Regions from separate parts of the Homo sapiens genome. Here all the other regions are linked to region 1. Evidence: fine-mapped expression QTL. A gene starts in region 1. Each other region holds a variant in brackets. All regions are shown on one strand. Distances are from middle to middle.

Region 1 (10,024 bases):
CAGGCTGGAGTGCAATAGTGCGATCTTGGCTCACTGCAACCTCCACCTCCCGGACTCAAGCAGTTCTCCTGCCTCAGCCTCCAGAGTAGCTGGGATTGCAGGCATGCACCATCATGCCCGGCTAATTTTTGTATTTTTAGTAGACATGGGGTTTCACCATGTTGGCCAGGCTGTTCTCAGACTCCTGACTGCAAGTGATCTGCCCGCCTCGGCCTCCCAAAGTGTTGAGATTACAGGGGTGAGCCACTGCGCCCAGCCACATTTTTAAATTTTGTGTAGAGACAGGGTTTTGCCATGTTGCCCAGGCTGGAAGTGGTGTGTTGTTGTTGTTGTTGTTGTTGTTGTTGTTGTTTTGTTTTGTTTTGTTTGTTTTGAGACTGAGGCTTGCTCTGTCGCCCAGGCTGGAGTTCAGTGGCGTGATCTCGGCTCACTGCAAGCTCCGCCTCCCGGGTTCAGGCCATTCTCCTGCCTCAGCCTCCTGAGTAGCTGGGACTACAGGCGCCCGCCACCTCTCCCAGCTAATTTGGAAGTGGTGTTTTTATAAAGGGAAATTTGGTCATCGATACACATGGAGCATGTGCTGTGAACATGAAGGCAGGGACAAGCCAAGGAACTCTAGCGACTGTCAGCTGAAGAACGTCGAGGTTCAAACGTTAATAAAGGCGAACTTGTTTCTCATAAAGGTTTGCAGCCTGCAAGGAGGTTTTTTTAAATTTTGTTTTGTTTTTGAGACGGAGTCTCATCCTGTAGCCCAGGCTGGAGTGCAGTGGTATGATCTCGGCTCACTGCAAGCTCCACTTCCCGGGTCCCGGTTCAAGCAGTTCTCCTGCCTCAGCCTCTCGAGTAGCTGGGATTACAGGCACATGCCACCATGCCCAGCTAATTTTTTTTGTGTTTTTAGTAGAGATGGGATTTCACCATATTGGCCAGGCTGGTCTTGAACTCCTGACCTTGTGATCCGCCCGCTTTGGCCTCCCAAAGTGCTGGGATTACAGGCGTGAGCCACTGAGCCCGGCCGGAGGCTCTTCTTGTAGCCTGGGAAGCATGGCCGGCACTTGGAGGGAGGGAGGGAGGGAGGGAGGGAGGGAGGAGTAAGACAGGAATTTACTCTGAAAGGGTTGGCCAAGTATACATGCTCAATAGGTTACAGGAGGGGCTAGGAATATTCATGAAGGAATCGCATATGCATGAGTATTAGGCTTACATGTATGAAAAATACAGCAACATATGACCCATGTTCACTTTGGGGAGAAAACTTAACAGTTAAATGCATTATAATCAGGCCCTATACATGAAAAGGTGACATGTAGGGTACAAGTCCACGAAGTGCACATCCCCAGGAGGCCCGTCAGAACCACAGAAACAAGACCAGGTGCCGGGTGGGCACAGTTAGTGGAGGCATCCTCAGCAGAAGGCCCGTCAGAACCACAGAAACAAGACCAGGTGCCGGGTGGGCACAGTTAGTGGAGGCATCCTCAGCCTTTGATAGGACGGAGTGGTGATTAGTAAGAGGGCTGGGGCGGGGAAGCAGGTGGGACACGGCCAGCCTCTGTCCTGCTGTGGCTGGGACTTGAATATTTTGTTGTTGTTGTTGTGTTTTAGCCAAAAGAGGGTCTGTTAGTCTCTGTCAAAGAGTTTCAGGACTTTTAATTCAGTCCACACCAGTGATCACCAGGAGCCAGGAGCGAGGCCTGGGACGGATACTCTTTATAGCCTCGGCAGGATCTAATGCTGCCAACGCCCTGATCTTGGGCTTCCGGCCTCCAGAGCTGTGAGACGGTACATTTCTGCAGTTTGAAGACTAAACTCTGATTTTTTTTATCTTGCCCAAATTCCTACCTAAGGCGTCTGGGGAGTCATACTTTACAAACCATACGTTCTCAGTGTCAAGCGTGTCCGTGTGAAGAGACCACCAAACAGGCTTTGTGTGAGCAATAAAGCTTTTTAATCACCTGGGTGCAGGCGGGCTGAGTCTGAAAAGAGAGTCAGTGAAGGGAGATAGGGGTGGGGCCATTTTATAGGATTTGGGTAGGTAGTGGAAAATTACAGTCAAAGGGGGTTGTTCTCTGGCTGGCAGGGGTGGGGGATACAAGGTGCTCAGTGGGCCAGGATGAGCCAGGAGAAGGAATTTCACAAGGTAATGTCATCAGTTAAGGCAGAAACAGGCCATTTTCACTTCTTTTATGATTCTTCAGTTACTTCAGGCCATCTGGATGTATACGTGCAGGTCACAGGGGATATGATGGCTTAGCTTGGGCTCAGAGGCCTGACACATGGCCTGTGACAGAGCCCTCAGGAGGCCCTGAGAACATGTGCCAAGGAGGTTGGGTGCAGCTTGGTTTATACATTTTAAGGAAGCGTCAGACATCAATCAAATGCATTTGAGAAATACATTGATTTGGTCCAGAAAGGCAGGAAAATTTGAAGCGGTGGGGGCAGGGGGCTTCCAGGCTGTAGGTAAATTTAAACATTTTCTGGTTTACAATTGGTTGAGTTTATCTAAAGACCTGGGATTAATAGTAAGGAAATGTTCAGGTTAAGATAGAACACCGTGCTGAGCAGCACTCCGGCCCAGCACTATTACGTGGGCAAGAGGCAAAGCTCCAAGGGCTTAGTGTACCTGCTGCAGCAGCTGGTAGGGGCAGACTGTGATCACAGAGACAGCACTGTCCCGCAGAAAAATCATGCAAGCCACCAACGTGAGCCATGCAAGTCATTTAAACATTTCGACTAGTCATACTGAAAAAGTCAAAAGAAACAGTTGAAATTAACTGTTTAGAGACAAAGTCTCACTCTGTCGCCAGGGCTGGAGTGCAGTGGTGCAGTCAAGATTGGTGGGAGGAAAAAGCAGGTTTTAATTGGAGACCCAGCAAAGCGAGAAGATGCCCAACTAGCGTTCTAAAGTGTCACCTTGGCTGGGCGCAGTGGCTCATGCCTGTAATTCCAGCACTTTGGGAGGCCAAGGCAGGTGGATCACCTGAGGTCAGGAGTTTGAGACCACCCTGGCCAACATGGAGAAACCCCGTCTCTACTAAAAATACAAAAATTAGCCAGGCTTGGTGGCGGGCGCTTGTAATCCCAGCTACTCGGGAGGCTGAGGCATGAGAATCACTTGAACTGGGAGGTGGAGTTTGCAGTGAGCCAAGATCACGCCACTGCACTCCAGCCTGGGGTATAGAGTGAGACTGTCTCCAAAAAACAAACAAACAATAAATAAAGTGCCACCCTAAAATTAAAAATTTATCCTCAGGTTTTGTGTGTTTGTTAGTTTTTGAGGCAAGATCTCACTTTGTCATCCAGGCTGGAGTGCAGTGGTATGATCACGACTCACTGCAGCCTGGAGCTCCCTGGGCTCAAACGATCCTCTTGCCTCAGCCTCTTCAGGTGCACCACCACGCCCAGCTAATTTTTTTAAATGATTTTTTTTGTAGAGATGGGGTCTCTCTATGTTGCCCAGGCTGCCATCGAGTTCTTCTAGGGAAACTTGCCGTGGGCACCGTGGGGAGTGGGGTAAGGGCAGGGTCTGTGTCTTGTTCCCATGGCTGTCGTGGGCAGTTGTCGGTTAGGAGGGGTGGCTGTCGAGGATGTTGGACTAATTGTTGGCGACCCCCCGCCCCAAGCAGGAGCATTCAGCTGGGGTTCCGCGCCGGGAATTGTTTCAGGATGAGGGTCCCCTCTGGAATGCGCAGAGGGGCGCAGTGTCCAGAGAGGGACGGGATGAAGGGGTGAGAGGAGAAGGAAGAAAAAGAAAGTGGGTGATTTTAAAACGGAGGTCCCTGGTCACACCATGAGCCTCACAGATGGGAAAACTGAGGCACGGGGGATGGTGCGGACCGCCGTGGCCCCTCCATCATCAGTGACAGAGCGCTCCGCGCGGGGCCGCGGAGGTCCCTTAATCTGCAAAGGCCCCCACGCGGCGCGCTGACGACGTCCACTGCACCCGCCGGGCGCCCTCTGGGCCGCTCCCAGGCTGGCCGCCGGCTCTGCGCGGCCGCAGACACTGTCCGAGGTGCTGGGCGCCGGGGCGGGGGGCGCGCCTGTCCCGCCCCACTCGGCTGCTCGGGCCTGCCCGGGGTCTGGGCTTCCGGGAGACCCGCATGCGCCCCACGCCTGGCGGGAACCGAGGCCCCTCCCGCGTCTGTACCCGGCGCGCAGCGGCCCGAGGCGCCTCCCGGGGGCTGGGGGCCCGGAGTCACTGGGAGGCGCCACCGGCGGGGAATTCCGCACACGCCTGCGCGGGGCCGGCGGCGGCGGCGGGCAGGGCGGGGCCGGCGGCGGCGGCGGCGGGCAGGGCGGGGCCGGCGGCGGCGGCGGCGGGCAGGGCGGGGCCGGCGGCGGCGGCGGCGGGCAGGGCGGGGCCGGCGGCGGCGGCGGCGGGCAGGGCGGGGCCGGCGGCGGCGGCGGCGGGCAGGGCGGGGCCGGCGGCGGCGGCGGCGGGCAGGGCGGGGCCGGCGGCGGCGGCGGCGGGCAGGGCGGGGCCGGCGGCGGCGGCGGCGGGCAGGGCGGGGCCGGCGGCGGCGGCGGCGGGCAGGGCGGGGCCGGCGGCGGCGGCGGCGGGCAGGGCGGGGCCCAGGGCCCCGTGACCCGAGGGGCGACAGCGCGCGGCAGGCGGCGAGCTCGGGGGCCGCAGGTGCGAGCGGGCCTGGAGAGTCTCCCGGGGCGGGGAGCGGGCTAGGATACAGTGGGCCCCGCGGGCCGGCGGGCCGGGTCCCGGGGAGCGGCGCCTGCGTCCGGATGCCCCTCCCGGCCGCCTCTTCCTGCCGGCTCCAAGTTTCGGTTTCGCCGCCGGGGTGCCCGGTCCAGCCCCGCCCGCGGCGCCCACTGACCCTGTTCCCCGGCTGCGGGAGGGGTCGGGGTGGGGGCAGCGGGCACGCCTGGGACCCCGGCGACATCCCCGGAGCGCAGAGCGCGGAGGAGGCTTTGCGCCCCGGCAGTGCTGCCCCCGGGAAGTGGCCGGGGCACGGGGGGTGTAGTGGAAGGGGACAGCCGGACCCGGGCCTGCAGGTCCGCCCGGGAATCCTGCGCCTGTACGAATGGCAACAACGGAAAAGTGAAGTTGCAAAAACAGACTCCTAACTTTTACGAGGGAGGCATCGCCCCGTCTGAACCGCACCGCGCAGCGTCCTTCCGACTTGGCGAAGTCGCCCGAGCGCGGGGCTCAAGGCCAGGGTGGGCACCCCTCCCGGATGGCTGCCTGCAAGCCGGCGGGCCGGGCCCTGGGGGAGTCCAGGGCGGGAGGGGAAGGAGCTGTGCAAACATGGTGGTGGCCCTTCCCTGCCCCCACCTTGTTGACTTTGGTTGTGGTTGGGGGATGGGCTTTGATTTGGGTGGCAGTGTCTGTGCTTGGGAAAAAATGTCAGAGAAAAGACAGGAAGCGGATTGAATGCAACAGTGTTGGGTGCCTGGGGCTCTCTCTTGTGTCTTCCGGCCCCTAGAGCAGATGGAACAATAAGATGCTTTAGGGGGCCGGGCGCAGTGGCTAATGCCTGTAATCCCAAAACTTTGGGAGGCCAAGGCGGGTGGGTCACCTGAGGTCGGGAGTTCGAGACCAGCCTGGCCAACATGAAACCCCGTTTCTACTAAAAACACAAAAAATTAGCCGGGTGTGGTGGCGCATGCCTGTAACTCCACCTACTTGGGAGACTGAGGCGGGAGAATCGCTAGAGCCCGGGAGGCGGAGGTTGCAGTGAGCTGAGATTGCCCACTGTACTCCAGCCTGGGTGAAACTGTCAAACAAACAAAAAATGCTTTTTGGAGGATTTTTCGAGTTTTCTGGTCTGTGGTTCCCCAGTGTAGCATTGGAGAAGGAAACACTTCGGGTGGAAAGAAAGAGGCCTGGGCGGTGGGGAGTCATTGAAGGTGTTTGAGGGAGGGAGTGTCCACTGGTGGTTGTTTCAGGTAGAGTGTGGAGGGGAGGAGGTACGGTGGGAGCCAGGGCTTGGCTGTGGCAGGGGTAGGGGAGTTTTAAACTCTCCTTCTACTCTGAAGGAGAGATAATTTTAGTCTCTGGAATAAAAGGGCAGCAGACCTGGAGAAAAGGGATGCAAATTGTCCCATACACCTATTGGGAACCTCATCAAAGAGAAGACTGCAGAAGACAGATGATTGATGTTTTTATGGCATTGGGACAGGGGCTTGGGGCTGGAGAGGGGAGGTGTGCAGGGTTGTCTTGTTGTGCAGATAATCACTCAGGTGATCTCAGAGCTGCTCTCAGAGGAACTGGCGAGGCCGCAGGCACTCCTCTTGTGTGTCCCTGGGACCGTTCCTAGATCCCTCTAGGCAGATAATGGGGCCTCAGAGAGAGCTTCTGCTCCATTCTGCTGTTTCATGGTGTGGATTTCCTTTATAGCCTTTTACAAAAGGATAGCTTCCCAGAACTCCTGAGTATGTGGTTGCTCTGAATAGCCATCTCAAAATTGACCACAGAATCTGTTTTGGGGTGGCATAGATTAGTCTCCCACACAGGTCAAGCCAGGGAACCCCACCCAGTGCCTCCGTCCCTCGTTCAGGCCCAGCCTGAGTGAGCCCACCCCAGTGGGAGGAGAGGGCAGGGCCAGGGCAGGGAGGGGGCCTGAGTGTCCTCCTGGCTGCTGAAGGCACCAGTCAGCTGCCGCTCCAGCCACTGCCCCAGTGGAGTTCTTTGGTTCCAAGCCAGCAGAAGAAGGTGGTGGGTGGGCCAGTGTGCCCTGAGGCTTCTTACTGGGGAGGGAGAGAGTCAGGTCCTCCACTGTTAGGTGGCCAAGCGCCCAAACGCCATCTCCACTCTCACCCTGGATGCAAGAAGTGACCCCGGAGGCCTGAGTCCTGGCCTTGGTCTGGTTTGATGCCATCCACCGCAGAGGCTGTTCTGAGGGCAGGTGGTCAGTGCAGAGTGGCGCGCTTTGTGGATGGCAGCCTCCCCCCATTACTAGGAATCTGACTGCCAGCCCAGTAGCCCTGGGCTGCCTGCTCAGGCCCCATCACCTGTGGGGCAGGTGCTTTAGTCCCCTTAAGAGGATGAGGAGGGTGAGGCATCAGCAGGCTGAGCGCCTTGCTCAGGGCAGGCCGTGGGACCCTGCCGAACAGCACGTGGCTGCCCCACGCCTGCCTGGAGCATCCCCTATCCCCACCCAGCCCAACCCATGTTCTCAGCAGCAGGGATGGTTCTAGGCTGGCTGAATGAGGGACCAGGGCAGAGACTGCAAAAGCTTGAGAGCCAAGGGGGCAGCACAGAGCGGGGAGGGGCTGGGCTTGGGCTGTGCTCCTGTTGGGTTTCCATTAACCAGGGGACCAGCTGGGCTGCTGTGATTTCACTTTCGCAGAAAATGAAACTGAAGCCGTGGTCACGTGACAGGACATGTAGTATATAGCAGGCTGCCAGCGACTCCTGCTCTTGCTTCTGGATCTGCAGGGCAGTCCCAGCAGGACCCATGGAGTGTCCTTCGTGCCAGCATGTCTCCAAGGAGGAAACCCCCAAGTTCTGCAGCCAGTGCGGAGAGAGGCTGCCTCCTGCAGCCCCCATAGCAGGTGAGGCCCAGGGGTGCTGGTGGAGGCTGGGGCAGTGGGGACCCCTGGAGATGTCTCACCTCCCTTCCAGGAAATGGAAACCCTGGGCAGCAGGCAGCTCAGGTGGGGCCGAGGTCCTCTGTGGCTACTGAGGCTCTGTGGCTCTGAATAGCCATCTCAAAAGTGACCACAGAGTCTGTTTTGGGGTGGCATAGATTAGTCTCCCACACAGGTCAAGCCAGGGGACCACCACCCAGTGCTTCCGTCCCTCGTTCAGGCCCGGCCTGAGTGAGCCCACCCGAGTGGGAGGAGAGGGCAGGGCCAGGGCAGGGAGAGGACAAAACAAGAAGTTTTGTCGGGGTCTTTGCTGGAGGTTCCTGCTTTTGAAAATTTTCAGTTTCATTTCCTAGAGAGAGCTCACGGTTTTTCTTCCCCTTGGGAATGAGAAGTGTCGGGCTGAGCTGAGGGCTTCATAGAGAGTTTCAGAGAATGCTGCAGGGAAGCAGAGTTTGAGGCTCTGCAGGGGTTGAGAGCTCTGCCTGGGTTAGTTTTTGAGGGGCCGTGAGGGGGCCCCAGGACCTGTCCAGGCACCTCCCTGGCTCGGGAGGCCAGTGGAGAGACAGGAGCGGGGCAGTGTCAGGCGGGCCTTGCCTGCTGAGCATCTTGAGTCCATTCTCAATTTTGTTGGCTTCTGGGGCCTCAGACTGGTTCCCCTCCTCCCGGGTTTTAAACACCAACCCTAAAACTAGCAGCCCCCAGACCTTCAGCCTTTCTGTGTCCAAAGCCCAGCCCCACCTCCACTGGTGAGGGCACCTCATTCTTCCAGCTGCTTCTATCGGACCCATCACCCCGGGGCCCTCTCCTTCCTCCATGACCCACATGCAGAGGGCCCTGCTGGTCTCCCCGCCTCCACGCTGCATGCTGCCTTCCTGCTTCCTGCTCAGCACAGCAGACAGTCAAACCACAGACCCCCTTACAAGATCCGCCCCTGCCCCCGCTGTAACTCAGGACAAGCAGGAGCCCTTACGGTGGCCACGAGGTCCTACATAGACGGCTGCCCACCCCATTCCTCTTGGCTCCCTCTCCTGTCCCCAGAGCCCACCACCTTCTGGCCCTTCCTGGATACACCAGGTGTGCTTCCACCGCAGGGCCTTTGCACCACCCTTCCCCAGAGGGCGGCCTGGCTCCCTCCTTCCCCTCTTTCAGTCTTTGCCCAGCTGCTCGCCATGGGGTCTCTCCGATGTTGTCCTTCAAGGGTGTGAGCCCCAGTCCTTCCATGTTTGTTTGTTTTTTTTTTTTTTTTTAGAGGGAGTTTTTTTGTTCTTGTTGCTCTGGCTAGAGAGCAGTGGCGAAATCTCAGCTCACTGCAACCTCTGCCTCCCGGGTTCAAGTGATTCTTCTGCCTCAGCCTCCCAAGTAGCTGGGACTACTGGTACCCACCACCACTCCCGGCTAATTTCTGTATTTTTAGTAGAGATGGGGTTTCACCATGTTGGCCAGGCTGGTTTTGAACTCCTGACCTCAGGTGATCCACCCGCCTCGGCCTCACAAAGTGCTGGGATTATAGGCGTGAGCCACCGCGCCCAGCCTAAGGGCTCCACTTCTATTAATAATAGTGCGGAGAGCACTGGTAGTGCGCAGCATGAACTGTTTCTAGAGGCATGCAAAGCAAATGCACTTGAGACTCCTAATTCACCACTTGTAAGAGGCCAGGAATTTGGTGACTCTGTACATGATGCTTTTGAACATTTATCGAAAACCAAGAAATACAGTGATGCTGGCTGGTTGCCCCCAGCGTCACTGAGAAAGTGGTGAAAAGGATGAACTCAGGGATTCGATGTCTGGGCTGCAGCTCTGCATAAATGATCTGAGAGTTTCTTAGTGTGCCCTGGATCAGAATCTTCTCTCCTGTAGCCACAGGGTTGAAATTGTAGAAAATCGAGCACCAGCTCTCACGCGATTAGCTGAGTTAAAATGAAAGCTGAGCTTCCAGGCATGCAGGGCGTCTGCTGTTAAAGTGGGGGCACTTAAGCCGGATGCCGTGGTTCACACCTACAACCCCAGCATGTTTGCAGGCCAAGGTGGGAGGATCACTTGAGCCTAGGAGTTTGAGACCAGCCTGGGCAATGTAGAAAGACTCCATCTCTGTATTACAAGAAAAAAAAAGTGAGGACATTGGGTGGCAAAGGAAGGGATCCTTCAAGTTGGGATGGGGACATGGGAAGCCCATGGCCAGGCTGGAGACATTGAGTTCCAAATGATATAAAGTTGAGTCAGGTTGAGTTTAGTAGTGTGGGCCCACTAGCAGAGATTATGCATTTCATGTTGCAGCTGGTAGAGTTAGGAAGGCCTCTGAGTCTTTGTTTGGTTGGCTGAAACATGGATCAAAAGGTGGCCCACCTTACTAGGCGTGGTGGTTCACGCCTGTAATCCCAGCACTTTGGGAGGCCGAGGTGAGTAGATCGCTTGAGCCCAGGAGTTCGAGAGCAGCCTAAGCAACATGGTGGAGCCCCATCTCTACAAAAAAAAAAAAGAAAAA
Region 2 (10,024 bases), 110 kb after region 1:
GAAAAATATCCTAAATGTCTAGACAGTGACTATTCCTTCAATTCCCTACAAAATCAGGCAGTTGGTACCCCTTTGTCTACGAGCTCCCATTCAACAAGGCGTCCCCATTCCCCTTCACTCCGGAGCCCCCTGGAGGCAGGGGAGCGCCATGACTTAGACGCACTCCAGGCCGCTCCTTGGTTTCCTCTCTGCAGGACTGCCCAAGAAGTTCGTGGACATCTTTCAGCAGACTCCTCTGGGCAGGTTTCTTGCCCAGCTCCATGGAGAGCCGCAGCAGGAACTTCTTCAGTGTTACTTGAAGGATTTCATTCTCTTGACCATGCGTGTGTCAACGGAGGAGGAATTAAAGGTAGATGTTTAGATACTGGCTAAGGGTCAGGTGTAGAGCTTGCATGATGGGGACTGGATGCAGACACGGAGACGTTTCCTCAGCTGCCTGGAGCTGGTGCTGTGAAGTCTGGGAACAGAACATGGTCAGCGAAGGGTGCCGGTGGGTGAAGGGGTCGCCCAGTCTCCTCTCAATATTCAGTGCTACACCCTCAGTCCACCGCCCAGGGGCTCCTAAAACACGGAGCTTTCTGTGAACATGAGAAGACCTCCAATTTCCTTGACATAGCTTCTTTTTAAATGTTGAGTTTCTCTTGAAAAAAATTAAATACGTAACTAACCCTACAGGGTAAGAATAAACAAGTGAAATTCAATAGAAAGTCATACTTTTGACTACCTAAAAATTTTAAACTTCAGTACATAAAAAAGGAGAGTGACAAATTTAAGAACATCCTTACAGCTAATATGACTAGAGGTTAATATTCTTAGGAATCAATAAGAAAATACCCTAAGTTTTAAAAAATGGGTAAACGTTATAAAACAACAATTTTATAATCTCATTAAGCATATCAACATCCAGGAAACATTTGAAAAATTGCTTAGCCTTACTATTAATAGCAAATCAACACAACAGTTTTTAGATATCATGTTTACGTATTCATTTTGCAAAGCTGATTTTTAAAAACAACAGCCGCCGGCCAGTGCTGCAAAGAAATAGCCAGGCCACGCGGCTGACAGTGTAGCGTGCACAGTGGGCGCCCTGCAGGGCTGCGTGGCAGAACAGTTGAGCACCTTATCCGATCTGAACTGCTGACTCTGTCCTGAGGAAACTACTGGAGATGTGGACAAATATTTGGTTCACAGGGATGTCCTTTTCAGCTTTGCTTCGAAAAATAAGAAATAGTTTAATTGTCCGGAAATACAGGATGGGCAAATTAAAGTATGGCCGTATGATGGGTTATTGAGCAGCCATTAAAACCATGTTTTTCAAGTATACTCAGTCATAGGGAAAGTTCATGATGTCATGTTCAGTGGCAAAAAGCCCAGACGACACGGTGACCTTAACGTGGGAGGAGAGGCAGATAGAAAACTGGACAGAAGCAAACGGGACAGAATAGCACACATGGTTTCTAATTTCCTCTTTTATGGTTTTCCAATAGTTCGGATTTCCCACGGGGAAAACATACCATTTTTGTAATTTAAAAATATATTCTAAAAGCTTTTTTGAATCCCAGTTTCTGCAGATGGCTCTGTGGTCCTGCACTAGGAAACTGAAAGCGGCGTCAGAAGCGCCCGAGGAAGAGGTTTCCTTACCGTGGGTGCACCTTGCCTACCAGCGTTTCAGAAGCCGTCTGCAGAACTTTTCCAGAATCCTGACCATCTACCCTCAGGTTCTCCACAGCCTGATGGAAGCCCGTTGGAACCATGAGCTGGCTGGATGTGAGATGGTATGGCCCTCCTCCGCCTGCCCTGAGCAAGCCTTGTGGTGCTTCCAACTCCACTCTGGGAATGGAGAGCTTCTGGGGCTGTGTTCCAAGTGGGAGATTTCTTCACAAGGCACATACCTTAGCTGAATTCAGAGATGTTAAGGACACATCTCGCTGACGCTTCTCACATCCTAGACAATGAAAGTTTAGGTCGCAAGCCTGGGACACAAGTATACATGCAGCTAACAGCCGGGGCCTCTGGTGGGCCGGTGGGAGGGGCACCGCTCAGCCACGCCCTGCTGTCCGTCTCCCCAGACCCTGGACGCATTTGCCGCAATGGCCTGCACGGAGATGCTGACAAGAAACACCCTGAAGCCCAGTCCCCAGGCGTGGCTACAGTTGGTGAAGAATCTTTCCATGCCGCTGGAGCTCATCTGCTCCGATGAGCACATGCAAGGCAGCGGGAGCCTGGCCCAGGCTGTCATCAGGGAAGTCAGGTGAGACCCAGGAGCCCTCACCCACTGCTTCATCTGGCGCGCGCTCACCAGGAGCCTGCCAAGTGCCAGGCATGTCCATGAGAAGACGGGCAGGTGCTCCTGCCATGGGAGGGGCTCCGTCCTCACCCGTTCACTCCGCATTTGCCGAACCCTTAGTGAGTGCCAGGCGTCTCATTAGGGTGCTGGAGACACGAGAGGCGGCTGTGCATTCAGGGAGCGCACTGTGTACTGGGGCCGTAGAAAGGCAGACGGGCTATTGTGATGCCGTGTGAGAAATGCTGTGGTAGAAAGGACACCCCGGGCGGGCAGGTGCACAGAGCAGGACAGGCCCTCAGGGCCAGAGTCCACTTCCCTAAAGGTGAGGTGGGACTTGACAGGCGCAGGATCATGCAGTGAGCGGGTTGTGGTGGTACCCCATGCAGAGGCATCACAGTGGGACACCGAGTCCCAGCTAAGCTGAGCGTCTGAGAGCGAGAGCTGGGGGCGGGCCAGGAAGTATGTCACATAGGGCTTGCTTGTAATCCCAGCCGCTGGGCCTGGACCCCGGGTCCCGCATCTCTTCTCCCGTCTCCCTCCTCGTTTCACCCTTGGGTTCCTTGGTGGGAGCCGAGTGAGTGAGTGAGTGGCGCCCTCTTTTGACAGAGCCCAGTGGAGTCGGATTTTCTCCACCGCACTCTTCGTGGAGCACGTGCTCCTAGGAACCGAGAGCCGCGTCCCCGAGTTACAGGGGCTGGTGACCGAGCACGTCTTCTTACTAGACAAGGTGAGTACTTGGGCTGGCCTCAGCACATGCACGGATCCACCCTTTTCCGAAAGGAAGAACAGCACTGACAGTGATCTGCGGCTGGGAGACGCTCTTTTGGCTCTGACCGTTTTGTCTAGACATGCAAAGGAAGGTGATTTCATCACTAGGCCATTACATTTTCCATGTTTAATTGTTTAATTATTTACCCTCTGCTGATTGCTAAGTCAGAGCATATCATTTAGAAGTGATTCCAGGAACTGTGTGCAGAAAGGGGCTGACGCAGGGAACATGCTTGTGAAACCTTCGGCAGGGATTACCTGGCCTTTGGAGTGACCCCAGAACAGACCACTAGCCTGGCCATCTGTGGAAGCTGTTACCATTTTCATAGTCATGGAGACAAGGATGTCAGAGAATGCCACCGGGGTTTGGGGTCTTCAAAACAGTGCTGTCAACAGAACCAAGGAACAGGAAGCCACCATGCCTGTCACTCAACACCCTTCATAAAGCTACTAATGTGGGGTGGTCTGCAGAAAGAAACCTGTGACCCTACAGTGATGCCCCTCTGTGGCCACGCAGTGGTGTCCAGCAACAGTGGCCACTCAGCCAAACACAGCCTCAGCCTCTGCCTCACCCGCACCCGTGACCTTCACGTGAGCACATCCAGAGCCCTCACCGCCAGGGGGTCTGGAAGAGGCAGCGCTGGCTGTCCGACCTTTGGAGCACAGGAAGGTTTACTAAAAGGAGGCCAGCATGGATGCTGGATGTGTTGACTCTGACCTATCAAAACATCAGCGGCTTAGACACAGTATCAGCTGATTTCCCACCCAGGATGGGTATGAGCAGCCCAAGGCTAAGGTACCAGCTCCCCGGAGGCTGGCACGGAGTCAGGTGCCCACGCTCCGTCTTGTCCCTTCATTGTCCCTAATGTTCAGCTTCCACCCCGTGGCCTGGCGTCACAGCCTGTGGGACAGAAAGCAGGGGAGGTAGAGGACAGGCCGTTTTCCTTAAGAGCCCAATCCCGGACACGCACACGCCACACCAGCTCGTGTCTCGTGGTCCTAAACTTAGGCACTCGGCCTTATCTGGTTGCAAGAAACTGAGGAGTTTTTCGTGGCATGGTCATGTTCCAGGTGGAACTTGAGTTCTTCTGCTGAAGGAAAAGGCGGAGAGAGGATAGTAGGACACAGCCGGTGCCCCCCTTCCACCCTTTTCCCCACACCCACACAGCATGCAGCCTCTCCAAGTCTCATCATGTCTCGGCGCTCTGGGAGATGCACAGGGC[T/G]TTCAGCCAGGTCCAGCGTGGGTCATAAGGGCCAGGTGCCCATAAACCCAAAGGTAAAGGAGCTGGCCCCTGCCTGCTCACATGCCCACAGGATTTGGGAGGTTAGGAACGTGGGGAGGGTTTTTTTTGGCGATAAAATGGCCTCAGAAACTTACTGGGTTTCTGGTTTATTTCCTTCCAGTCAGATCTCTGTGCAGGTAACCACAGCCAAAGACCTTACCTCGTTAGTTTTCCTGCTGGAAGCCTGACTTGTACCCCTACCCAGCCCCCGCTGAAGAGCAGCCCTTGGGACCATTTGAAACAAGAGGCTTGGGGGAAAGCCCTGCCTTCCGCCGTGAGGCTGGCTCCCTCGGCCGGGCAGGAAGTTGTCGACGGAACTGCTGCAGGATGGCACGGGTGGGACTGCGGGCATGGCTGGCTTTTAGTTGTTTTGGATATGTACCTTGAAGGGGAATTCCTGGATCATTTGATAACTCTGTTTAACTTTATGCAGAGGCACTGTATTGTTTTCCACGGGGGCTGCAGCATCTTTCTTACATCCCCACCAGCCAGGCACCAGGGTCTGAATTTCTCCACATCATGGGCAACACCTGTTACTATCTGATTTTTTTCATAATGGCCACCGTGATAATTCATTGTGGTTTTTATTTGCATTTCTCTAATGACTAGTTATGATGAGCATCCTTCATGTGCTTGTTGGGCATTTGCTGTCTTCTCTGGAGAAATGTCCATTCAAGTCCTTTGCCCATTTTTGAATTGGGTTGTTGATTAACAAAGTTATTAGGATATTAAAAATACACACATCACTTCCAAGTAAGATTAATCCCAGCAATTCAAGGATGGCTCAAAATAAAAAAAAAAAAATCTGTAAATGTCATCAGTTATATAAATTAAAAGATAAACTCTATATGATCATTTCAAAATGTAGAGAGAAAGCATTTGATAAAATTATTTGGAAAGAAATACCCTTGTCAAACTTGGAACAGGAAGGAACTCTCCTTGAGCTCACAATGCCCAAGGTAGACATAATATTAAGATGTCTATACCAACATCATGCCTGCCCATCAAATTCCATTAGTACAGCCATTAAACTATCTTGTACAGTGATGATGTGTATTGCCTAAAAACCAGTGTTTCCACTTCTAACTATATCCTAGAGAAACTTCTCATTTGCTCTCAGACATATGCAAGAATGTTGAATACAGGACTGTCAGGAATTGCAAAAAACCTAAATGCCCATTAACCAGCAGACAGGTAACTGGTGTCTTTATCAGTGGGTACAGGAGTGATCTGGACCTAAGGTATCATGAAGAGAATGAGTTGCAGAAGCCTTTATACAACGTGGTATCATTGATATCAAGTTTTAAAACATTCAAAATAATAACTCCATGTTCAGATATGCTTACAGCTATCCTAAAAGCAGACATTTAGAAATATAGTTATCTCTGGGGAGGGACGGAGGGATGTGAAGTTGTAACTATATGCATAATGTTTTGTTTCTCTAAAAAATGATCTATCGCAGCAGCTTGGGAGGCTGAAAGAAAATTTTAAAAAATTTAAAAATTTTAAAAAATGATCTAAAGCAAATATTCCATAAATGCTGAGATTTCTTAAAGCTTGGTGGGGGGTATACAGATGGTCATTATTATTACTTAAAGTTTGAAATATCTTAGTGAGAGCGGAGGAGACCTTAAAAGAAAAAGAAGAGGGAAAATCGTAACTTGAGAATGTAGTCCCCTGACAAGCAGCATAATCACAAAACGAGCATTCAGAGTTCAAGCGTTAAACACAGGATCACAAAGGCCTCGCACCCCACACCCCACACACACGGCGCAGCCTTGGCCCTGAATGTGGTGCTCCCTCTGTCGCCCGGCCTGGCCGCCCTCAGCCCTCCCCCCTGCTAATGACTCCTGTCCCTGCCTTTCTTCAGTGTCTTCGAGAGAACTCTGACGTGAAGACGCACGGGCCTTTTGAGGCCGTGATGCGCACTCTCTGTGAATGCAAGGAGACAGCCAGCAAGACCCTCAGCAGGTGAGACCTTAGGTTTGGATCTGTGAAGGCGAGAATTCTGAACCTCTCGTGGTTTTCACTTCTTCTGGCCAGTTTCTCTGCTTCAGAACTGATTGCCCTTCTTGGATTCTAGGTTTGGGATTCAGCCGTGCTCCATCTGCCTGGGAGATGCAAAGGACCCCGTCTGTCTGCCCTGCGACCACGTGCACTGCCTGCGCTGCCTCAGGGCCTGGTTTGCCTCAGAGCAGATGATATGCCCCTACTGTTTAACTGCCTTGCCAGACGAATTCTCTCCAGCTGTTTCCCAAGCGCACAGGTACAACACCCTTTCTCTCAAGAAAGCATCCTTTTTTTCATTTTCCTTTTTTGGCAAACACAATATTCAGAAATATAAACTCTATTAACCTTCATTTGGTAGAAAACCTGACCTCAGAGAACTATCATAAGAGACGCCACTTACGTACTTTCATAAATATCTGGTATCTCAAGATTATTCTCTCCCCAAGACATACACATACAGATTTCAGACAACAAATTCAGAGGAACTAAGCCAGAAAGTCTTAACAAAGGTCCTCACCAGAGGCCCAAGGAATGTAGACGCCAGTGTTTTTTTTTTTTTTTTTGAGACAGTGTTTCACTCTGTTGCCCAGGCTGGAGTACAGTGGCACGATCTCAGCTCACTGCAACCTTCACCTCCTGGGTTCAGGCAATTCTCCTGCCTCAGCCTCCCAAGTAGCTGGGATTACAGGCATGCACCACCATGCCCGGCTAATTTTTGTATTTTTAGTAGAGACAGGGTTTCACCATGTTGGCCAGGCTGGTCTCGAACTCCTGACCTCAGGTGATCCACCCGCCTTGGCCTCCCAAAGTGCAGGGATTACAGGCATGAGTGACCACACCTGGCCGACGCCACTGGTTTTAATGCATCAGTATCATTCACAGTCACTGACCTGAGGATCAACCCACTTCTTGTCTAGCTTTTTGGAGCTGGTTAAAAGCAGCTCTGGCTCTCTGGACTCAGCAGGCCTCAGCCCGGCTCTGTGAGTGGTTGGTTTTCTTTCCTTCCCCTTCCCCCCTTCTCAGGCCTCCTAAAAGTGGGGCACCAGGCAAGCCCAGTGGATGGGTTCTTTGACATACTTTGGGATATTGAAGGGTATTGTTGCCGGGTCCAAATGATCAAAGTGTTTCCAGAAAGGGATGCATGTAAATATCATCTGCTGAGGTTTTGAAGACTAGCTCTAACGGGTGAGAGGAGTGACTTGAATCTTTCAATTTAAAAGTAAAATGCCAGCCAGGCATGGTGGCTCACGCCTGTAATCCCAGCACTCTGGGAGGCCGAGGTGTGTGGATCACCTGAGGTCAGCAGTTCGAAACCAGCCTGGCCAACACGGTGAAACCCCATCTCTACTAAAAATACAAAATTAGCCAGGCGTGATGGTGCGTGCCTGTAATCCCAGCTACTTGGGAGGCTGAGGCAGGAGGATCACTTGAACCTGGGAGGTGGAGGTTGCAGTGAGCGGAGATCGCGCCACTGTACTCCAGCCTGGGCAACAAGAGTGAAACTCCGTCTCAAAAAAAAAAAAAAAAGTGAAATGCTGTGCAAATCTCAAGTCATTCTGTAAGGAGGCATTTGGGAAACACCATCCACCTGTCTTCTGTTTCTCGTGTTCTAAGGGAAGCCATTGAAAAGCATGCCCGCTTCCGGCAGATGTGCAACAGTTTCTTCGTAGACCTGGTGTCCACCATTTGCTTCAAGGACAACGCTCCGCCTGAGAAGGAAGTGATTGAGAGCCTGCTCTCTCTCCTCTTCGTCCAAAAGGGGCGCTTAAGAGATGCTGCCCAGAGTAGGTTGCTTTCTTCCTGTAAACCTAGCCCCTCATTTCTTCATCTCGCTTCTGCATGTCTCATGCAGTGAGCTGCCTTTTTCTTTCTGGTTTAAGGACACTGTGAACACACAAAATCTCTCTCTCCATTCAATGATGTTGTGGATAAGACTCCTGTCATCCGCTCAGTGATACTGAAACTGCTTTTGAAGTACAGGTAAGAACAACATGGAGACTTGCTTCTGGAAAGCCCTGGCTTTTTCTCTTCATCGCAGCGTTTTGTTACCAAGTCTTCTTGTCGTGACTAGTAGCTAGTACATGATCTTGGGGAGCTTTTTCGGTGAGACACAGCCTGGTTACTTGTACTGGTTGTGTATTCTGACATTTTCACATATAGGCACATGAGTTTAGTATTCCCACAAGCACACGCATCTAGCAAGAAGCCAACAGTGCCGTGAAGGGACCACAGTGGCGTGAGGGACATGGAACTCAAGAGGCCAGAATCTGTGGTGCTGAGCCTGGTTCCACAGCAGCGCAACTTTCTGATTTTTCAGATGGTAGCTTAGAATCCTGCTCACCCTGAATGTCCTAGATGTCTCCTAAGTTTCTATTCCCCTGAACATGGGCTCTATTTCCTTGGAAAGGATGTTGACATCCAAGAATAGTATCACCTGTGGTACTTGTATGGATCTAATATTGCAGTTCTCAAAGTGTTGGTATGGACCCTTGGGTGTGAGGTAGGTCTCTGAGGTTAAAACTATTTTAAAAATTAGATTACTAAGATAAATTTGCCCTTTTTTAAAAAACATGTTGATACTTATGATGATGTTACAAAAAGCGGTGATGAGTTAAACTGCTGGCCCCTCACGTGAAGACACAGTAGCTGGAGGTATTGTTTTCTTCACCGCCATGCACACGTGGTTTTCTTCATGCCAGTTTCATTTTAGTTTTACTAAATCTTGACTCTTGAGGATTTGACTTTTCAACGTTTTGTGGAAATGGGAAGCACACACAAAACACTCCCACTACACACCGGAGTAGACAGTTGCCTCACAGAAAATCACTCATGACAAGCCCTGGGTTATCAGCCGGCTGCTGTGTTCATGGACCGCCACCCGTGCTGGGAGGAAGGATGCACATGATACAGGTGTCCAGGGCTGGGCAGGCCTCTCCTGGAAATCAGCAAAGTGAGCCAGCCTCAGCCAAACAACTGACAATGTTGGTTGGTGATGATAACATTCAAGCTTTTAAGCTGAAATTAAAATTTTGAAAAGCTTATATTCTCCACTATGAGCTTGTGAGCTTTTGAATACTTAAAGACATTTTGGGGCAATTTGTGGTGATATTAATGAATATGGATTTTTTTTTTTAAAACGTAGAATACAAATGTGTCAACCTTTACAAGACCTGCACAGCCCAGTGAACCAATATTTTCCAAATGACCAATGCCTGATGTCATGAAATCATGTGGGTCAAAAAAGAAAAAAATCTATTTAAAGTATGGGCAGACCTTTTTGATTTTAACATAATTGACTGAAAAATGCACTGATACAGTTTCAGGCTCCACATTGCAACTAACCTCTAGACATGACCATTTATCACTGTGGGCACAGCATTAAGGAATAATAGCCACAATCAGCTGCAAAAACTATTAAAATGTTCCTCGCTATTCCGAGTATATGAGGACAGATTTTCTTCATGTTCTCCCATATGCTGCAGCGATGGGGAGCAGGGCAGGCAGGCCGCTGACTTCCAGGAGCCAGGCCCCAGGGCCAGCACAGGAATGGAAGACCAAACCACTCTTCTCACGGATTCATGTTTTGGAAAATATTTTAAATGTTATTTAACATGTAATAGCTTTATTGTTATTTTAAATGAATGTATATTTTTGAAACCTTTTGTTTTTAATGTCT
Region 3 (10,024 bases), 160 kb after region 1:
TAAGGAAAATGTTCTAAAGTTAGATTGTAGTGATATTGCACAACTCTGTAAATACCAAAACCATCGCATTATATGTTTTAAACAAGTGAACTTTATGGTATGTTAATTGTATCTCAGTAAACCTGTTAGGAAAAAAAACAGGCCGGGCGCAGTGGTTCATGCCTGTAATCCCAGCACTTTGGGAGGCTGAGGCGGCTGGATCACGAGGTCAGGCGATCGAGACCATCCTGGCTAACACGGTGAAACCCTGTGTCTACTAAAAATACAAAAAAAATCAGCCGGGCATGGTGGCGGGCACCTGTAGTCCCAGCTACTCGGGAGGCTGAGGCAGGAGAATGGCGTGAACCTGGGAGGCGGAGCTTGCAGTGAGCCGAGATCGCGTCAGTGCACTCCAGCCTGAGCAACAGAGCAGGACTCTGTCAAAAAAAAAAAAAAAAAAACAGATTCCAGAGCCCTACCCCACTTACTGGGGGAAAAACTCTCCCAGAGTATAGCATAAGAATCTGCTTTTTAAAATAAGCTTTCCTGTGATTCTGAAGCAGAGCTGGGCTGGAGAACCACTGGCCTGCTTTTCCCACCGTGAAGAACACTGTCCTTAGCATCCCTGACAAACGATGGCGGAGCCCGTTCTGTGCCAGATGCTGAGCCATGGCTGGTGTGTGCTGCTCCGCAGGCCTCTGGCGGAGCCCATTCCATGCCAGATGCTGAGCGATGGCTGGTGTGTGCTGCTCCACAGGCCTGGTGGAGCCTGTTGTGTGCTGGACGCTGAGCAATGGCTAGTGTGTTCTGCTCCGCAGGGAGCTGACTCCTACTTGTCTGTGACTCCCATCGATCAGTTCTGCCTTCAGGTAGCAAAACAGAACGGATCTTCCCTGCCTTCTGCTTGTCAGCCCTTCTGCTGCTGGAAACAGCTGCCTGCTCCTTGACCACACTGTCCCAAGAGGCTGCGATGACGTCCAGCTTCTTCACTGGTCAGTGGCCCTCTGGTCATGCCCTCCGTTCACACAATCCATCTTTCCGTCTGCACTCAGAATCAAATGCAGGAACTTGGATGTGGTCTACCCAAGTCCCTAGACCTAACTGTCACCCACGCCATTTCAGTCGGTGTAGCTGGAAACACTGGTAGCTTTTGAGGGGCACCAGGTCACTGGCTTATGTTGAGATTGCTGGTCATCCAGACCTGCCCCCTACGCTAATCATACAGTGATTTTTCTTTTCCCAGATTTTTAATTTGAAAATGTACATACATCCCCCCAAATTGGAAAAGGATACGTTGGACACCTGTATTCCTTCTACTTAGGTTCAGCTGTTGCTGCTCTGGAATATTCTCTCTCGCGCACATGCGCTCTTTGTGTGCGTGTGTACCGTACATCCCAGCGACTGTGACAGCTCAGAAGACATCAGCAGGCCTGTCCTGAGAATGACATTCTCCTCCACAGCCACAGTGTCATTATCATACTGATTACACATCATAGTCATCCCATAATGTCACCTGAATGATAACATTATGGGAGAGATTCAGATGTAAGCAGCCACGCCCCTCCTGTGGGAACTCAGGCCACACTTGAATTCCACATGTCACTGTGCAAAGTGACTTTTACTCTGTGGGGATGTCAGTGATCCAGCCTGCTGGCTTCTCTGTGAACCCAAATTCTGTTATCAGAATGGACCCTCCCCACTTTGGGTCATGGGCAGATTTGATCAGTTTCCCCATTGAGTCATTGATGAAGATGTTGTGAGAATGATCCCCAACCCTCTGTGCTAATACAGAGCACTCCGTCTGCTTTGGTGTGTTTAATTATTGATCCAGCCACAAGTGAGGAGTGGAAGTTGTGATTTGAAAGCTGTCACCAAGAGATTTGGGGGATTCAGTAACAAAACTGCAGGAAGGTAGACAGGTCTGCAGAATGTGGACATAGTGGGAAACGTCTTCACATTAAGGGCAGTGTGACTAAGGAAAACACAAGGTTAGGAGACTCAGGCCTGCCATGTTGTGCTCTAAACTGCAGCCTCTGCCTCCTGGGTTCAAGCAGTTCTCCTGCCTCAGCCTCCCGAGTAGCTGGGATTACAGGCATGCGCCACCACGCCCAGATAATTTTGTATTTTTAGTAAACACGGGGTTTCTCCATGTTGGTCAGGCTGGTCTTGAACTCCCAACCTCAGGTGATCGTCCGCCTCGGCCTCCCAAAGTGCTGGGATTACAGGCGTGAGCCACCACGCCTGGCCAACACTGTGTCTTCTTTAAGCCTCCAACAACCCATGGAGGGGTGGGGTGGGGCATCGGCTTCAATACACAAAGGAGGAGACACCAGGAAAGCAAGGGGCAGGCAGAGGTGATGCAGCCAGCAGCCTTAGCCTTGCTTCTGATGAAGACCAGGTCCTGGGGGGCTCCCGCGGACCTGATCCCAGGGAATCCTCCTATGGACCAGGTCCCGGAGGCTCCTCCTATGGACTAGATTCCAGGGAATCCTTCTACAGTCTAGGCTTCAGGGGCTCATCCTATGAACTAGATCCCGGGGAATCTTCCTATGGACCGGGTCCCGGGGAATCCTCATACAGACCAGATCCCGGGGAATCCTCCTATGGACCAGGTCCTGGGGGCTCCTCATACAGACCAGATACCAGGGAATCCTCCTATGGACCAGGTCCCAGGGGCTCCTACTATACACATCAGGTCTGGGAGTTGGGGCTCCTCCAGTGGACCGGGTCCGGGGTGGGGGTTCTCATATGGACCGGGTCCCAGGGGGCTGCTGCTATGGACCAGGTCCCGGTGGGGGCGGGGTGGGGGTGCTGTTGCTACAGACCAGGTCCCGGGGGAGCTGCTGCTACGGACCAGGTCCTGGGGGGGTCTGCTCCTATGGACCAGGTCCCGGGGGTACCTGCCCACCACCAATTTGCAGGGTACATCTTCTAGTTCCTTCTTCCAAACCCATCATCTCATAGGTGAGGCAGGGAAGGGGAGCCATGAGGGTGACGTAAGGGAGAGGGAAGGATGAGGGGGGCAGGGCATGGACGGACTGGGGATGGAGCAGGTGGCCGAAGGCTGTGCTTCCCACTGAGCTGCGTGCCTGGTGTCAGGTGGTGTATGAGGAGAGCCGCATGGTCAGCCTCACAGCCCCCTACGTGTCGGGCTTCCTGGCCTTCCGAGAGGTGCCCTTCTTGCTGGAGCTGGTGCAGCAGCTGCGGGAGAAGGAGCCGGGCCTCATGCCCCAGGCAGGTGTCTCATCCCTAGGACGAGAGAAAGGTCCCTCCTTCCCCCTGGGGGAGGGAAGGCTGCTGCAGGTCGCCACCACCACAGTGGCAGGGAGAGACTCATGAGCTTCCTGGAAGAGAGGAATGAGGATTTCTAAAAAGCTGGACCCCAGAGACAGTGCCCCCTTCTTGCCTCAGGGATGGCCCTGTCCTGAGGGCCGAGGGGCAGCTCAGCTGACTGTGACTCTCCCTGTGGCTCCATAGGTCCTTCTTGTGGATGGAAACGGGGTACTCCACCACCGAGGTAATCCTGCTCTTGGAGGTCCAGGGAGGGCACTGTGGGGAAGAGCGGGGGGAGAGGGCACCTCTGTCGTCCCCCACAGAAAATGCTGGGCCCTCGGCCTCTGCCGCCAGCCCCCTCCAATGGCTTCTTTCTCGGCGCAACGGGGACGCGCAGTGCGCTCAGCCCCGCCTCCCCCACCGCCGGTAAAGGACTGTCTACTTTCGCTTCACCCCTTACCTCTTTCCTGTCCGCCACTGCCTTCTCTACAGTGCCCTGTGCTGGCTCATCTCCAGGTGCCACTATCCAGTTCTGACCTGATCACCAAAAGATGTCCCAGGGCCCGGGCTCAGAGTGGCCTTCCCTGCCAGCCGCCCAACCTGCATGGCCCGTCAGGCCCCTTGTCCACAACTAGACAGGTGTACCCAGGCCCCCACTGATGCCAGGAACCTTGGCCTAGGGAGCGTGGCTGAGGGAGATGGGCTCTTTTTTTTTTGAGACGGAGTCTCGCTCTGTCGCCCAGGCTGGAGTGCAGTGGCGCGATCTCGGCTCACTGCAACCTCCGCCTCCCGGGTTCATGCCACTCTCCTGCCTCAGCCTCCTGAGTAGCTGAGACTACAGGTGCCCATCACCACGCCCGGCTAATTTTTTTGTATTTTTAGGAGAGACGGGGTTTCACGTGTTAGCCAGGATGGTCTTGATCTCCTGACCTCGTGATCCGCCTGCCTCGGCCTCCCAAAGTGCTGGGATTTCAGGCGTGAGCCACCGCGCCCGGCCTAGGGAGATGGGCTCTTTTACTGTTACATACAGAGCTGCGGGCGGCGCAGCAGCACCCAGAGAGGGCCCAGGAGGGGTGACATTGGGCCTTCCTGGCCAGCAAGTGTGACTCGGCCCTGGCTGCTGCCCTCGCACATGGGTGCAGAGCCAAAGGGTTGTCATGTGCCGACCCACATGCTCGTGCCAGCGCTGGCAGGCCACCGTCGAGGGAAGAGGAAGCTGGGAGGTGCAGGAAATGACC[G/A]GAGAGCTGCAGTATCCCAGCACGCCAGCGAGGTGCTGACCCTGGCACTGACCGTGTCAGAGAGAAGGAGGCTTCCTCCACGGCCTTGCACCCAGGACATCGGGCACAGGGGGCTTTCGCCCAGGTCTGCTTGGGACTTAGATCTGGTTTCCCCAGCCCTCTGCCTGTCCACAGACCTCTGCTCACTTAGGGAAGCTTTTGGTAAGACTGGCTTGTCCTGAATCCCTGTGCCAGGCCCCAGCCCCACCTCCCCAACCCCACCCTCCTTTCTCTCTGGCAGGCTTTGGGGTGGCCTGCCACCTTGGCGTCCTTACAGACCTGCCGTGTGTTGGGGTGGCCAAGAAACTTCTGCAGGTGGATGGGCTGGAGAACAACGCCCTGCACAAGGAGAAGGTGAGGAGGGGCCTGCTGCAGGCCATGCCCGGCAGCTCAGTGGCGGGGCTGTGGTGGCCCTGGGCATGAGGACACTTCTGGACCAGCCCTTGCCTGCTGACGCTGCCCTCCTCATCCCTGGCTTGTGGCCTGGAGTAAGAAAGACCTGCTTTCCTCTGGGTGCTGCATTGCCTGTCTCAGCTGAGGGCGCTCTGAGCTCCTCTCCTGCCTCCTGGGTGTGCCTGCCTCTCTGGTCCCCCTTGCCTCTGAGCCACCGTGGCACACCAAGTAGGGCTAAGTCCTCCAGTTACTGGGGACAGGACGGGCTTCCAGGCTGTCCCGGGCGCACTTGGTGCTTTCCCCACCCCGCCTTGCCCCAGCCCCTGTCTCCTCCCCTGCATGCTCAGGTACCACAGCCTCCAGGCCCCCCTCCCGCCAAGACCTGCCTGGAGCTGCCACCCACACTCTTCCTACCTCACCTTCCCCTGCATCTTCCTCCTCTGGGACCCCATGTTGGCACTGGGAGTGAGACACTCACAATGGAGGGAGCTGTTGACACCCCCAGCTGTTTCACTGGATGGCAGATTCTGAGAGCAGAGACTGTGTCTCTCATTCCTCCTAGCTCTCAGGTGCCTGCATGGAGAAGTTGCTTAATAAAAATCTGTTGAGTTGATGGGGACCTTAGACCCACTCAATGAGCCAGTCCACCGCCGCCAGAAATACCAGCCTGTTGAGCTGTGTCAGATGTGCCCAAAGCAGGAGAGAAGCCACAGGAAGGAAGCGGGCTCAGCACCCATCACTGGGCAGTGGCGGCACCTGTGTGGCTGCCAGCCTGGCACAGCGGCCCTGGGCAGATTGTTGCCCTTGTTCTAAGCCCCATCATCAGGTTTGAACAGGGTCTTGTGGGCAGCACCCTCAGCTCAGGGACAAGACCACTTCACCGCCTGCACGCTCAGTGTCGTCTCAGGTGGTGTGGCTTTGCCTGGGCTGTGGCTCACCTCCAAGATCAGTCCCCTTCCCTTTCCTGGCCCAGTGACTGGGTTTTAAAAATAAAGAGACCTGGGCCGGTTGCGGTGGCTCACTCCTGTAATCCCAGCACTTTGGGAGGCCGAAGTGGGTGGATCACGCGATTAGGAGATCGAGACCATCCTGGCTAGCATGGTGAAACCCCATCTCTACTAAAAATACAAAAAATTAGCCGGGCGTGGTGGCACATGCCTGTAGTCCCAGCTACTCAGGAGGCTGAGGTGGGAGAATCGCTTGAACACGGGAGGCAGAGGTTGCAGTGAGCTGAGATCGCGCCACTGTACTTCAGCCTGGGCAACAGTGCGACACTCCGTCTCAAAAAATAGAGACTTGCCTTCAGCCCTTCACCAAGAAGAGAGGGGTTTTTTTCCCCATTTTTCCCTCCATTTTCCAGATCCGACTCCTGCAGACTCGAGGAGACTCATTCCCTCTGCTGGGAGACTCTGGGACTGTCCTGGGAATGGTGAGTAGCTAGGGCCCTGAGCTCCTCCAAAGCCCCGGGGTAGGGGATCCTTTGCAGGCAGACACAGGTGCATGCAGACACGCGTGCACTCACACTTGCCCACATCAACCCCCCGCCTGCCCGTCCATCCATCCTCCTGCCTCTGACTGAGTCCAGGGTGTGATGTTTGTGTTTCTTTCCTCCAGCCGTGCTGAGGGAGCCCACCCTCCCCCAGGGACAAGCAGCAGGAAGGCGCCCTGAGGGTGGGCAGGCCCTGGCCCCTGAGAGCACTGCCCCTTCAGCTTCCCCCTTGCCCCCAGGACATTTTGTCAGAGCTCCAGCTGCTGAGGCTGTCCTGACCCTGGTCCCGGTGGCCCAGCCCACAGGACAGCCCTCGCCTTCCTTGTCACAGGCCCTGAGGAGCCACGACCGCAGCACCAGGCCCCTCTACATCTCCGTGGGCCACAGGATGAGCCTGGAGGCCGCTGTGCGCCTGACTTGCTGCTGCTGCAGGTTCCGGATCCCAGAGCCCGTGCGCCAGGTGGGTGTGCTGGGGATGCGGGGAGGCAGCACAGGCTCCTCTGCTTCCTGCCACCTGCTGTTCAGGGCTCCCCAGCAGCTCAGCTGGGGTCAGAGTGCAGTGACATGAGGACGGGGGTTCCTGGGCCGAGGACAGGTCACAGACATCTTGCTGGAGAGCTTGCTGGGCCCTGCAGTCAGGACAGTAGACTGGGGGGTGCAGGGCTCCCAAGAGTTCATCCCCAGGCCCTGCACCCCATGCACTCAGCCTCCCAGCCTCTCTGAGCCTCCTGCACCCAGATACAGGCCAGCTTGGAGAATCAGTGATGTTAGCTCAGGTGGTGAGGTGTCCTGCCAGTTCCCAGCCAGCCCCTCAGGTCCCAGAGGGAGCAGCTGAACTTGAGCCAGGAGGCTCCTGCAGGAAAGCTGTGCAGGCCCCAGAGACGCCAGTCTGGGGACTTGGGTATGCCCGCCCCAGGACCCAGCACAAAACTGGTGTTCGGTCCCCCAGGAAGGGTGAGAACTCTGCTGAAGCCATCAGCTCAGCTGAGAAAGGACTCAGCCTGTGGGCCAGGGAGAGACAGCTGGCACGAGATGCCCACAGACAGCCTCGATAGGACCAGGGGACCACAAGACACGGGTGGATGCTGTCCCAGAGAAGCCCACAGAGTGAGGGTTCAAGAAAAGTCAGTCTTAGGAAGAGACCCGCTGGAGGAAGGGGAAGGACAGCCCTGGGCAGGAAGGAGTTTGATGTGCTCAAGAAATGGGGGGCCCGGAGGGTGGCTCACGCCTGTAACCCCAACACTTTGGGAGACAGAGGTGGGAGGATCACTTGAGCCCAGGAGTTTGAGGGCGCCCTAGGCAACATAGACCCCGTCTCTACAAAAAAAACGTAAAAACAAATTAGCCAAGTGTGGTGGTGCGTGCCTGTGGTCTCTGCTACTTAGGAGGCTGAGGCGGGAGGATCACCTGAGCCCAGGAGGTCGAGGCTGTAGTGTGCCCTGATTGGGCCACTGCACTCCAGCCTGGGTGACAGAGCAAGACCTTATCTCAAAAAAACTTTAAAAAACAAAAACTCAGCAGGAAGGTGTGGCCGGAGCCAGATGGCAGTGAAGTACAGAGTGGGTGGGAGCCCGTGAGCATCTTGGGGTGCGCCAGGGTTTCAGACGTCACCCACAGGGACTTGGATGGCTGTGAGTTGGCAGCGGGGCGCCCGCAGATTGGCCTTTTTAGGTGGCCGCTGTGCGTGCTGTGGAGGCTGTGGACGCAGGTCTGCACAAGCCATGCTGCTTCCAGCAGCCCAGCCCCTGAGCCTCCCTGGTGTCTGCCCCTTCCCCATCTTACCCCACCGCTTGCCCTGCAGCCTGCCCTGGGGCAGCCGCAGCACCGGTGGAAAACCCCCAGGCCACCACCTTCGGGCCGGGGCCTTCCGGCTGCTGGCGCGCAGTGTGGCCTCCAGGGGGCAGCAGCAGCCCACATACCACAATGGCCCTCGCCCTGGGGAGCTGTGCTCAGTGGTGGCGTCTGAGAGCGGGCTCCACAGCCTTGCAGGGCTTTGCTCAGGGCACAGGTGTGTGGACTCTCAAGCCTGTGAGCTGTGTCCCCAGCCCCCAGGAAAGAGGCCTTTCTTCCTCCATTCCAACTCAGCCGTGTGGTCTTCCGAGAGAGAACCCAAGAAACTGTCCCCCAGGCCTTCAGCCACAGGAACTTTAGGTCGTGCTGCTGCTGCAGACAGCACAGTTCCTGGAGCTCCTGTACCTTTTTCTGCCTCAGCGCGCCCCAGAGTAGGACAGTGGCCCATCCTTGCAAGGGAGGGGACACCTGGCCTGTGAGTACCTTAAGCATCTAGAAATAGAGCAAGGATCTGTGCCTAGCACCAGCAAAGAGCCTGCCAAATCCTGGGCCCACCCTCCAGAGGAAGGAAAGCCGCAACCAGTTGGGATATGCAGCCACCCCGTACCAGGAGCCCGCAGCTTCTTACTGTTGGGCGTGAGCCGAGGATCGTGTCCTGCAGGGCTGGCTCTGTCTCTCGGTCCATTTTCTTCCTGAGCTCACTCACCTCTCAACAGGTTCACCTCCTGCTCTGTTCCAGAAGGTCCTGGGAGAGCACAGACGGGGTTAGTGTTGGTCTGCTCTCTCCCTGGCTCCGCGCCGGGCCGTCTTGGTGGCCCCATGGTCACAGGCGCTGCGGCGCTCCTGGTTGCCAGGTCCAGGCTCTCCTGCCAGGCCAGGCTGGGCCGCTCCAGGGGAAGGTGAGAGGTGCTGGCCCCGCCTACCGCTGCCCCACTTCCCCCATGAATGGAAGCAGGAGCAGGCTGGGGGATTAGCCGTTGCTTTCCATGAGTCGTGCAGCCCTGAAGCTAATCTAAGCTCATCTGAGCTGGGATCAGGGGGACTTCCCAGGGCCAGACCCCCCATGCCCCCGGGGGTTCCCACTCAGACCTGAGCCCTGTTCAGTGTCCCTCCCTGCTAGGGTCTGCCCCCATCCCAGCCTGTGGCCCACCGCCCTCTTTTATCTTGGTGATTCTGGAGACGGGACAGGGGTTACTGCTGATCTAGTCAGGGAGAGGACAGACCAGCTGGGCTCAGAGCCCCCAGAGAAGCAAGTGTTAGCAGGGAAGCCTCGGCTTGCGCAGAGCCTACAGGGAAGCACAGACTGGAAACCAGTGAAGGCTGAGCAGCTCCAACTGCCACTGGTGGGGAGGAGACCCAGGACCCCCTCACTCAGCCTGTCCACTCACCAGCTACTCAGGCCCTTCAGGGACTGCCCAGCTCGGTTTGAGAGCTGCCATTGCGGGGCTTTGACCCCAAAGTCCCAGGCATGCCTGTCCCACACTCGCTGACAGGGCCGCGGCTCCTGAGCCTGAAGAACTGGCTGTGACCTGTGTGTCCTGAGTGGGCTTCTGTGGGGGATGGAGGCATTGCCAGCAGCAGCTCCTGGTGGGAAACTGGTCTAGAGACCAGCTCAGCACCCAGCAGCACGTCTGTCTCCCCCAGGCTGACATCTGCTCCCGAGAGCACATCCGCAAGTCGCTGGGACTCCCCGGGCCACCCACACCGAGGTGAGCACCCAGGGAGGCTGGGGCACTAAAGGGGCATCTCACAGACACCTGCATGGGCTGTTTCCGGTGGCTCAGCCTCTCCTTGTTGCAATATTGTGGCTCAGGACAGACAG

Which allele goes with the higher level. Alleles are on the strand shown, and positions count from the first base shown. SD is a standard deviation of normalised expression in the study named. Not every link is listed here.
In carriers of allele T in region 2, the expression in monocytes after interferon gamma of the gene that starts at base 4,580 in region 1 tends to be higher than with G alone (large effect, 0.77 SD a copy in Fairfax 2014).

The links.
Region 2: its variant is fine-mapped to the expression of RNF213 in monocytes after interferon gamma (Fairfax 2014, PIP 0.95).
Region 3: its variant is fine-mapped to the expression of RNF213 in whole blood (INTERVAL, PIP 0.90).

The regions. Positions count from the first base shown.
Region 1 is chr17:80,256,273-80,266,296 of GRCh38, forward strand. RNF213 (ring finger protein 213) reads left to right here and starts at 4,580. Exons shown (of 68, transcript NM_001256071.3): 1 at 4,580-4,630; 2 at 7,302-7,506. The coding sequence starts at 7,410. RefSeq lists a cis regulatory region at 992-1,212, silencers at 3,959-4,308, 4,588-4,937, 5,318-5,457, 7,032-7,249 and enhancers at 7,171-7,460, 7,199-7,755, 8,611-8,690, 9,349-9,398.
Region 2 is chr17:80,361,540-80,371,563 of GRCh38, forward strand. It overlaps RNF213 (ring finger protein 213), which reads left to right. Exons shown (of 68, transcript NM_001256071.3): 39 at 195-349; 40 at 1,563-1,775; 41 at 2,070-2,251; 42 at 2,894-3,014; 43 at 6,209-6,309; 44 at 6,422-6,604; 45 at 7,963-8,132; 46 at 8,229-8,328. All of the region lies in intron 1 of RNF213-AS1 (RNF213 antisense RNA 1), which reads right to left. Among named protein-coding and RNA genes, the nearest start is that of ENDOV, 49 kb to the right of the region's middle. The variant T/G (reference allele first, on the strand shown) is at 4,279.
Region 3 is chr17:80,418,750-80,428,773 of GRCh38, forward strand. ENDOV (endonuclease V) reads left to right here. Exons shown (of 10, transcript NM_173627.5): 3 at 3,079-3,213; 4 at 3,457-3,496; 5 at 4,771-4,883; 6 at 6,283-6,351; 7 at 6,743-6,871; 8 at 9,847-9,911. It overlaps MIR4730 (microRNA 4730), which reads left to right and starts at 669; the gene lies at 669-744. RefSeq lists enhancers at 6,204-6,705, 6,706-7,205. The variant G/A (reference allele first, on the strand shown) is at 4,491.